2 separate regions of the Homo sapiens genome follow, and region 2 is linked to region 1. The links come from fine-mapping of genetic effects on gene expression. A gene starts in region 1. The other region holds a variant in brackets. All regions are shown on one strand. Distances are from middle to middle.

What was found. PIP is the estimated chance that this variant, and not a neighbour inherited with it, causes the effect. A credible set is the group of variants that fine-mapping cannot tell apart.
Region 2: its variant is the best candidate, but not a certain one, in a credible set for the expression of JUP in whole blood (INTERVAL, PIP 0.56).

What each region holds. Positions count from the first base shown.
Region 1 is chr17:41,783,892-41,789,257 of GRCh38, forward strand. It overlaps JUP (junction plakoglobin), which reads right to left and starts at 2,820. Exons shown (of 14, transcript NM_002230.4): 1 at 2,697-2,820. RefSeq lists silencers at 2,112-2,324, 2,489-2,788.
Region 2 is chr17:41,758,996-41,764,361 of GRCh38, forward strand. It overlaps JUP (junction plakoglobin), which reads right to left. Exons shown (of 14, transcript NM_002230.4): 8 at 3,988-4,326. Among named protein-coding and RNA genes, the nearest start is that of JUP, 25 kb to the right of the region's middle. The variant A/T (reference allele first, on the strand shown) is at 3,177.

The DNA of each region.
Region 1 (5,366 bases):
TCAAAAAAAAAAAAAAAAAAAAAAAAGAAAGTGCTTGGTTTCTGTAAAGTCTTACCTTGATCTTGAGTTACCGTTTGTCAAGTACTTACTGGGTAGATAGGTATTAGTATTCCCATTTTGCCAAAGAGGTCACTGAGGCTCAGGTAATGAGAGACAGAGCTGGGTCTCAAACCCAGCTCAGTTCAAGCCCAAAGCCCTGTGCTCAGAACTGCCCCACTGTCCCATCTCTCCAAATAAACAGTCCTTCTGTAGACTAGTCAATTGACCCATCTCACTCTAAGGTGGCTCCAGGATGGGAAAAAGGTTGGCAGCCCTAGCCCGACCTTTTTCGTTCCTATGCACTGCATTCTCAAAGCCTCGGCCCTGGCAGCCCAAACAGAGGCTCCAGAGGGAATGGGGTGGAGCCAGGGTGCAAGGGAGGGGTGGAGTGGGGGTGGGAGGGCTCAAGTCACCCAAGCTGGGGCTTGATCTAGCAAGAAATGACTAACTGGGTCCTACCTTCTCCTCCTCCCCCGCATCCCCCAGTCCAGTCAGTGGCCAGTTTTCACCAAGCACCTCCTAGCAGTACTTCCTCAGTATTATCTTTTCATCACAGCCACAAACCAGATTAGCTAAACTAATCATGTAGCCAACATAATTACAATGCCCTCCCCTCCTCCACCTTGGCACAGAGAAGAGGGAAAGCAGGTTATTTTTGCCCAAACTCCCTGCTCCTGTTGCTCCCCAGAGGTGCAGAATCCCATCCCCCGGCAGAAAAGGATCTGAGTTCCCACACTGACTTCCCCCTAGCACAGGGCTGAGCGTGATCCCCACCCAGGATAAAGGGGCTGAGTCTGGGCCCCCAGCCTCACTCCCCCATCTACAACAAAGAAAGAGGTGGTAGACTCTTCCCCTCCAAGCACTCTCGATCCCCGCCCCCCACAATCTTTCTCCCACCCCCAGGACTGAGAGAGAACCCAACTGTTGTATTCTCTCTCTGTTCCCCAACGAGGCTGGGCTCCAAATCCTGCAAAAAGACCACATTTCAGATTTTTTTTTTAAACCGGGGTACAAACCCTGATCAAGATCCCCAATTCTGGGTGGGGGGGGGCGGTCTCAGGAAATTGGGAGCAGGGAAGGCAGGGGGCCCGATGCAGCTCTGCCTGAGAGAGTCTAGCATTGAAGAAACCTTCCCCCAAAAAGCCTTCCTGCGGTCTCACTTTCCCTGTCAAATTCTTTCAGGAAAGCGGGTGGGAAAGGTCTGTGCAGGCCTCCAGAAAGCATGCACCTTCACAATTCAGAAATCAAATGGAAGGCAAGTCCCACAGCCTCATGCGCTTCTGCCTCAATAACCAGCCAGCTAAGTAATGTGGGGGATGGGGTAGAGGCAAAAAAAAAAAGACAAGAACAACCACTCCCCCCACCTTCCTCAGTTTGGCCCAGCCCTGCCCCACCCCCATTCCTGGGGAGGGGGCAGAGCTTGAGAGACAACCACTTACGCAGGCCTTGTCTGAGGGGGTGTGGTGGTCCCAGGAGGCAGGAAGAGAAGGAAGAAGCTGCTTCCCCTCTCAGCACTTTCCACCCCCCACCCCGGCCCCTACCTCAGGCCCCTGGGGCCCAGCGAACAGGATGAATGTGGGGGCAGGGAAGACAGGGTCGGAGCCCAGGCACCGGCCCAGGTTCAGCCAGGGGCCGGCTGGGGGAAGGGGTTTTGCACCAGGAAGGACCCCCTAAGCCTAAAGGAAGTTTTGGGCAAGGAGACGGGAAAACCCCCAGATAAAGCTGCTGTGAATACTTCCTCCTGCAAAGTTTGTTTTGGGTGATTTTTTCCAACAATAAGAGGTTAGAGAAGACGGGTCCTGTTCCCCTACCAACACTCTGGCAGCCACAGCTACTGGAAACTGGGCCAGGTGACCCTGAATTCTTCATCCGTGCACAGACCCCACCCCCCAGACCCCAGGGCGAGCCACGGGTGCCAGACACCAGCTGGACACTGAGCCGAGCCCTGCACCCCCCAGTCACTCCATCCCACCTCCGCTGAAGAAGCCAGAGCCGGGCTCCCACCGGCGTGGAGGGAGGCGCCGCAGGTAGTATCGACGAGGCTCTGGGAGCTGGAGGGCAGGGCCTCTGGACTCCGTGCGCTCACCTGCTCGGCAGGTGGGGCCAGAGTCGCTGGGAAAATGTGCGCTCGGCCCCCACAGTTGGGCAAGCTGGGCGCAAACAATAGGGCCCCACCCAGGCCTGGGGGAGTAGGGAGGGAGGGAAAGCGAGGATGACGCGTGGGGTGGGGTGAGGGTGGCCCCAAAGAGACCAGCGGCAGCAAGTTCCCCAAACGGTAAATTCCTGACTGCAGCGTGAGCCCTGGGACGCAGTCGAAGCAGAGCAAAGTCTCCCCCGCCAGCCCAGGGCGAGAGTCAGGGACGCGGCGTCGGGCGAGCTGCGCGGGCCCCGGGGGAGGCGCGACCCCGGAGGCACCTGTCCGGATCCCTCCCCGCCTTGCTCAGATCTCTGGTTCGCGGAGCTCCGAGGCGCGCTCGGCCCGAACCGCGCGACCCCCAAGTCGCCGCGCCCAGGACCCCAGCGCGCCCCCTGCCGCCGGTGCAGGGTGGCGCTCGATGGCACCGGCCCTCACCTGCCCAGGGACGGCTGGGACCGGCCCCGCGGCCGCTCGCCACCCCTCTGTCCCCAACGATACCTGCGCCCCCGATAGCCCGCACCTGAGTATGGGGCCTGACCGGGCCGGGTCGGGGTCGGGCCGGGGTGGGAGCCGGCGCGGACAGCGAACTGAGCTCGGCGTGGTCGGGCGGCGGCTGCTCCGGACTCTGGCCAAGGCAGCAACTCAGTAACCGAACAAAAGGCGAAGAGACCTGACAGCCAAGCCACGCCCCTCGCCACCTCGAAGCTCCGCCCCTGGGGGAGACGCCCACCCTCTGGTGCGAGCTCACTGGCTATCTCGCCTGACTGTCCCGTGGAGGGGCGGAGCCTCGCCTCCAGTCCTCTTCCACGGCCGCCTCTGTTTATCCGCTTGCCATTGGCCCCGGGGACTGCCAGTCGGCTCTAGGGATGGACTCTAACTTGAGGTCTCATCCTAACATTGCATCTATTGGCAGATAGAAAGTTACTTCCTCCTGATTGGACAAGGCTCTGTCAGTAAGACTAAGGAAAAAACCAATGGAAGGGATGGGGTGTGTCTTGCCCCACCCTTGCTCTGAGCAGGTGAGACTCATTACTCTCCCCTTCCCCCTACCTGTCCAACAGGTAAGTCATAGGGATACCAAGGGAAGGGACAGACGCCTTCACCGGCCAGCCAACTCAGCGTCAGGCATGATGCTTCTTTGGGCTTATTCATCCTTGCCCCAAAGTAGTAATCACATATTTGTATAGCATTTCATAGGCTTTGTGCTGGGGTGGGATTTTTTTCCCGAAAGATGGAGTACTCCTGGGATTTAGAATTAGAAGGCCAGGTTTGGTCTTCTCCCACTTGGTATGATTTTAGGCAAGTTACTTCACCCTGTTTCTCCTCTTCTGTAAACTGGATACATTAGCCATATCTACCTCACTGGAGTATGTGGGGATTAAATGAGGTCAGGTTTGTGAAAGCACTCAGAAACTGCTAAAGGTTAGAAATTTAAATTAACGGTATGTTTTTTTTTAATTATTGTGACAGCTCTGAAAAATAGTTAGGATGAGAAAACGACCCTCATTGTAAAGATGAAGAAACCGAAGTTCAGAGAAGTCACAAAACTACAAAGTGGCACACCCCAAGCTAGAACCTCCTTCCTCTCATTTGAAGGACCATCAAACCAGCTGTTCCCCTCATGGAAGAGGAGCATAGACATAAAATGTCAAGGCAATGGGGAAGGGGCAGAGAAAAGGCACAAACACTTGGAGGAGAGACAGAACAATTAATTGGCACAAAAATACAGTATTGGTGTCAGGAGGCTTTGGTGGGCTTGGAAACATCAAGCAGCAGATCTGAAGGAAATCCAGCCCTGGCATGAAAGAAACGGGGCAGGCCAGGCGCAGTGGCTCACTCCTGTAATCTCAGCATTTTGGGAGGCAAAGGCGGGTGGATCACCTGAGGTCGGGAGTTCAACACCAGCCTGGCCAATATGGTGAAGCCCCATCTCTACAAAAAATACAAAAAGTTAGCCGAGCGTGGTGGCGGGCAACTATAATCCCAGCTGCCTGGGAGACTGAGGCAGGAGAATTGCTTGAACCTGGGAGGCGGAGGTTGCAGTGAGCCGAGACCATGTCACTGCACTCCAGCCTGGGCATGACAGAGCGAGACTCCATCTCAAACAAAAAAAAAAAAAAGAAAAGAAAAAAATAAACCGGGCAGCACACCCCTCTGCGATAGGAGAGCCTGGGGTAGAGATCAGAGAGAACTTCTCGGCCAGGCGTGGTGGCTCATGCCTGTAATCCCAGCAATTTGGGAGGCCAAGGTGGGCAGATCACTTGAGGTCAGGAGTTCGAGACCAGCCTGGCCGACATGGTGAAACCCCATCTCTACTGAAAATACAGAAATTAGCCAGGCATGGCAGCGGGCACCTGTAATGCCAGCTACTCGGGAGGCTGAGGCAGGAGAATGGCGTGAACCCGGGAGGCAGAGGTTGCAGTGAGCTGAGATCATGCCATTGCACTCCAGCCTGGGTGACAGAGTGAGACTCTGTCTCAAAAAAATAAAAAGGACTTCTCACAGGCAGCTTAAGAAGACAAGGGCACTTCCTTTCTGTGGTTGATGACATGAATGCTGCTCGTGGCTGTATGGTGTGCCAAGGGCCCTACAAACATTCCTTCATTCAACACTTGAGTATTCATTGTCAACTGTATGTTAGGCACTGGTGAACACAGAAAATAAAACCTGGTGACACAGGAAATAAAAATGATCCCAACCTTCAAAGAGCTCATAGAAGGATAAGCAGAAGCAGCGTGTGTGGGTGGGTTTTGGAGGAGTGGTGGTTTAGAAAAGGGTCCCCCATCAACAAAGCTCTACAGCCCCAAAGCTAGCACACAGGATGGGCTGGATGAAGGTACCTTAGCAGCAACCTTGACCACTTTCCCCACCAGAGAAAAGAATGGTAGCTGAACATTCTCCCTTCTGAAGTTGCGCCATCCAAAAGCAGGGCCAGGGAGATACGGACATCCCTGAACTAGTGGCCATCCCATAACCAGGGCCACCGCCCTTTGCCTGTTTCCTCAACTCTCCATCCTCCAGCTTACCTCCCTATCTTTATCCCTGCCTTACCCCTGCCCCATCCACCTGCTTGTCACCCTGTCACATAGAGCTGTAGCCAGGCCACAGCTGGGGAAGGAATGGGCTCACAATCCTGGACTGCTGCAGCTGCCAGGGTTTCATTTCTTCCCCCTTCTGCCCACCTCCCACC
Region 2 (5,366 bases), 25 kb before region 1:
GGAAAATATCCAGAGAAGGAGACCATCCCAGCCATGTCACTTAATCCACAGGATCTGGGAGTGCTCATGGCTAATTCTTTTTTTTTTTTTTTTTTGAGACAGAGTTTCGCTCTTGTCACCCAGGCTGGAGTGCAGTGGTGCAATCTCACCTCACTGCAACCTCCACCTCCTGGGTTCAAGCGATTCTCCTGCCTCAGCCTCCTGAGTAGCTGCGATTACAGGTGCCTGCCACCATGCCCAGCTAATTTTTTGTATTTTTAGTAGAGACGGGGTTTCGCCATGTTGGGCAGGCTGGCCTCGAACCCCTGACCTCAGGTGATCCGCCTGCTTCTGCCTTCTAAAGTGCTGGGATTACAGGTGTGGGCTACCACGTCCGGCTGCTCATGGCTAATTCTAATAGCCCTTGCTAAAATGACACCCCATTCCAGAACATCCTGCCAGCCCCATGCCTGGCCCCTCACCCTGTCCCCTCTTTCTTAACCACCCCCCACAGACACCATGACCTTGCTTGCTTTTCTGATAGTCCTCCAAGCCTGATTCTCAGGAATTCTGTGCTCTAGGTGCCCCCGAAGCCTCCTGCTTGGGTGGTGCTCACATTGTCATTAATCCCCAGCAGGGCAGCTCTGGAAAGAGGTGTCCTGAGATCTCCTCCCCAGGGTCTTTGACTCAGAGGAGCCACTCTGGCCTCCCAGAGCCTCTCAAGGTGTCATCTATTTCATCCTCAAAACAAGACGCCAGGAGGACAGGGATGAAAATCATGTGAGATGGGGACGTGAGCACAGGGCAAATGACTTGCCAAAGTCACTTGCCACTTAGCTGCTGGGTTAGGATGCAAAGTCCCACCTCAGGTTTGCAGCAGGGACCAAGCATCAAGGAGGGGTCACAATGACATTTTTTTTTCTAAACATGAATTTTCTTTTTTTAATTCAATGTATAGGCCGGGCGCAGTGGCTCACGCCTGTAATCCTAGCACTTTGGGAGGCCAAGGCAGGCAGATCACTTTAGGTCAGGAGTTCGAGACCAGCCTGGCCAACATGGTGAAACCACGTCTCTACTAAAAATACAGAAATTAGCCGGGAATTGCTTGAACCTGGGAGGCGGAGGTTGCAGTGAGCTGAGATCATGCCACTGCACTCCAGCCTGGGCAACAGAGCAAGAATCTGTCTCAAAAATAATAATAATAATAAAAAATAATAATTCAATGTGTAGAATCACTTAGAGTCATTCTTATCTGCACTGGGTTTTTTTTGTTTGTTTGTTTTTTTGTTTGTTTTTTTTGAGACGGAGTCTCGCTCTGTCGCCCAGGCTGGAGTGCAGTGGCGCGATCTCAGCTCACTGCAAGCTCCGCCTCCCGGGTTCACACCATTCTCCTGCCTCAGCCTCCTGAGTAGCTGGGACCACAGGCGCCCGCCACCACGCCTGGCTAATTTCTTTGTATTTTTTTAGTAGAGATGGGGTTTCACCGTGTTAGCCAGGATGGTCTCGATCTCCTGACCTCGTGATCCACACGCCTCGGCCTCCCAAAGTGCTAGGATTACAGGCGTGAGCCACCACGCCTGGCCATGTTTTTTGTTTTTGTTTTCCAAGACGGAGTCTCTCTCTGTCACCCAGGCTGGAGTGCAATGAGCGATCTCAGCTCACTGCAACCTCTGCCTTCCGGGTTCAAGTAATTCTTCTGCCTCAGCCTTCCGAGTAGCTGAGATTACAGGCACATGCCACCATGGCCAGCTAATTTTTGTATTTTTTGTGGAGGCGGGGACTTACTATGTTGGCCAGGCTGGTCTCGAACTCCTAACTTCAGGTAATCCTCCCGCCCCGTCCTCCCAAAGTGCTGGGATTACAGGCGTGAGCCACTGCGCCTGGCCTGTCTGTACTATTAAATTGTCTTAAATGTAGCTGGCGGATGCCCCTGCCAGCTGGCTCCTGTGCCCGTTGACAAGACCCTCATCGATGGTAGCTTCCTCACTCTCTGGCACCAGATGCCACCTTGCCTTTGGCTGCCTTCCTTGTCTCTACATATAGATATACACACACACAAACGCTTTCCCCCATAACTCTGTCCCTTGGGTCTGCCCACACCCTGACCCACTCTCACTTCCCCCACCTGACAGGGAAGTGACACACAGCTAGCTCTCTTCCACCCAGGTAGCCTCAAGAAGAAGACCCCACTCCTTCACACACCCAACTCCCTATGGGAGATGCTAAGCGTCCCCAGAATCCTCTGTGCCCTGTGTCTCTGTAGTGGCTCTCCTGATTTTCAGCAGGACACACGGCCATCTGGCTGGTGATCACACTTCCTAACCTCCTTGCACCTTGATGTGGCTGAATGACCAAGTTCTGGGGTGTGAGCAGGAGTGATGTGTGCCACTTTCTGGTGGCCGCTAGCCATCCCCAGTTCTCAGGGCTAGAACACATCCGTGGGGATGATACAGTCCACTCATTCGTGTGAGGACAACCCTCTCGTCTACACCCAGTGGCATAAGAAATGTGCTCCATGGAGCAGCACCTGCGAGCTTGTTAAAAATACAGAATTGGGCCAGGTGCAGTGGCTCACACCTGTAATCCTAGCACTTTGGAAGGCCAAAGTGGGTGGATCACCAGAAGTCAGGAGTTCAAGACCAGCCTAACCAACATAGAGAAATCCCGTCTCTACTAAAAAATGCAGGAGAATCGCTTGAACCCGGGAGGCGGAGGTTGCAGTAAGCCGAGATCGCACCATTGCACTCCAGCCTGGGCAATAAGAGCAAAACTCCGTCTCAAAAAAAAAAAAAAAAAGAAGAAATACAGAATTGTCCGGGCCTGGTGTCTCACACCTGTAATCCCCGTACTTTGGGAGGCTGAGGCTGGTGGATCACTTGAGTTCAGGAGTTCAAGATCAGTCTGAGCAACATGGCAAAATCCCATCTCTACTAAAAATACAAAAATTATCCAGACATGGTGGCGTGCACCTGTAATCCCAACTACTCAGGAGGCCAAGGCAGGAGAATCACTTGAACCCGGGAAGCAGAGGTTGCAGTGAGCCAAGAATGTACCACTGCACTCCAGCCTGGGCAATAGACATTGTCTCAAAACAACAAAAAAAAGACATACAGAATGGCAAGCCCTCTGCAGCAGGCCTGCAGAGAGACAGAGAGAGAGAGAGAGAGAGAGAGAGAGAGAGAGAGAGAGAGAGAGAG[A/T]GAGAGTGTGTGTGTGTGTGTGTGTGTGTGTGTGTTTTAGATTGTTTATTTGTTTGGGCTTTTTTTTTTTTCCAAATTTTTTGTAAGAGATGGGTGTCTCACTATGTTACCCACGATGGTCTCAAACTCCTGGCCTCAAGTGATCCTTCCGCTTCCGCCTCTGCCTGCACCTCCCAAAGTGCTGGAACTACAGATGTGAGCCACTGCACCCAGCCTCCTGTTTTTCTTTTCTTTTAAGACACGGGTTCTTGCTCTGTCACCCAGGCTGGAGTGCACTGATGCAATCATAGCTCACTGTAACCTCCAACTCCTGTGCTCAAGCGATCCTCCGACCTGAGCCTCCCCTCCCCAGTAGCTGGGACCACAGGCGTGCACCACCACACCTGGCTAATTTCTGTTGTTGTTATTGTTGTCGAGACAGGTCTTGCTATGTTGTCCAGGCTGGTCTCAAATTCCTGGCCTCAAGCAATCCTCCTACCTTTGCCTCCCAAAGTGTTGGGATTACAGGCATGAGCCACCGTGCCTGGCCCTGGAACCTGCAATTTAATGAAACCACCCAGGGTACTCATGTGCATTTTGAACTCTGAGCTCTGCCCTAGGGGCTGGTAGAGCTACAAGATAGAAATCCCAATTCTGGAATTTTAGAGCAGAGCCATTGTTGAGGTCTAAACTATTACACGAGAGAGAAATAAACTTCTGTCTTATTCGAGCCACTGTATTTAGGGCTTCTTTGCTACAGCGGCTTTGCCTATACCAATACAGCACCTAAGCCTGCTGCAGGGAGCTCCTTCCCCTCGCCTAACAGCAGTACCTTGACCAGTGGCCACTGGTTGGGCTGGTTGAGCAGCTTCACGATGGCTGGGATGCCATAGTTGAGACGCACAGAGTTCTGGGCCATCTCGGCCTCAGGGTGGCGGCTAGTGAGGTGGCGCAGAGCGCAGACGGCAGGCTCCGTGATGTCGTCCTTGTCACCAGCACGCAGGATGGCATGGATGAGAGCCTCCACACCGCTGTTCTGTGTCACCAGCGTCTTGTTCTTGCTGTTGTTGCATGTCAGGTTGGAGAGTGTGCCCGTGGCACAGGTGAGGACGTTGACGTCATCCACACTCAGCTGATTCACCAGAATCTTCAGCACACTCTCCAGGCCCTCCTGGAGGGCAAGGAAGGGACGGGGGAGTCAGGGAGCAGCCAACTCCAGGGAGCCTTCTCGAATATGTCCAAGGGGAGTGGGATGACCTAAAGGGGTCAGCCCTGCCTGTGTGTGCCCGGGAACTTTCATCCCTATGACCCGCCACACCCTGTGAGAGGGCGTTACTATCCTGTGGTGCAAGTGAGGCAATGAGGCTCAGAGAGGTTGGGGAACTTGCCCACAGACACACAGCTAGTGGCTGGATCTGAACCCAGGCTTGGCTCTAAGCCCCACATCTCTTCCCTCCAACTCATCAGCCTTTCCCTGGGGCCCTCAGACCCAGGCAGAACCCTCCTCAGGCCAAAGTACGGTGGCCAAGGGAGGCCTCGAGACCAGGAGGCAATTGTTGAGGGGGCCGCATGATTCAGTGGCCCAGCTGAGCCATGTCTACTCGCTTGTCACCTTTCTGGGCCTTCACTGCTGCCCCACCACCCTGGGGCCCTGAGCCAAATCCATTTCCAGTAAAATCACTACCTCAGACGTCTATCTCACTTCTCCCAGGGAGACACGTGGGCCTTGTGGTGGAACAGAAAAACCCCAGCTTTGGGGACGGACAGTCCTGGGTTCAAATCCCAGTTCTGCCATTTACTACCTGTGACCATGGCCATTAGCTCCCCGAGCCTCAGTGTCTTCATCTAACCCACAGGGTCCCACACTCTAACCCCAGGTTGAATGAGCTACTGTCCACAAATGCCACGCAGAGGGCCAGCACAGGGTGAGCACTTGATAAACAGCATATTGCTAGGGGAGGCCTGGGGAATGGTTGTTGGAAGGAGGCACAGGGCACTTGCCCTGGAGCTGCATTTTTCCTTAAATTGTATTTTTAGTCATGGGGGCCTGTCTCTTGGTACACTATTGCTCCAGCCCAGGGCCCAGGTCAAAACTGTTCTTTTGCTGGATGTGGTGGCTCACGCCTGTAATCCCAGCACTTTGGGAGGCCAAGGCGGGTGGATCACCTGAGGTCAGGAGTTCAAGACCAGCCTGCCCAACATGGTGAAACC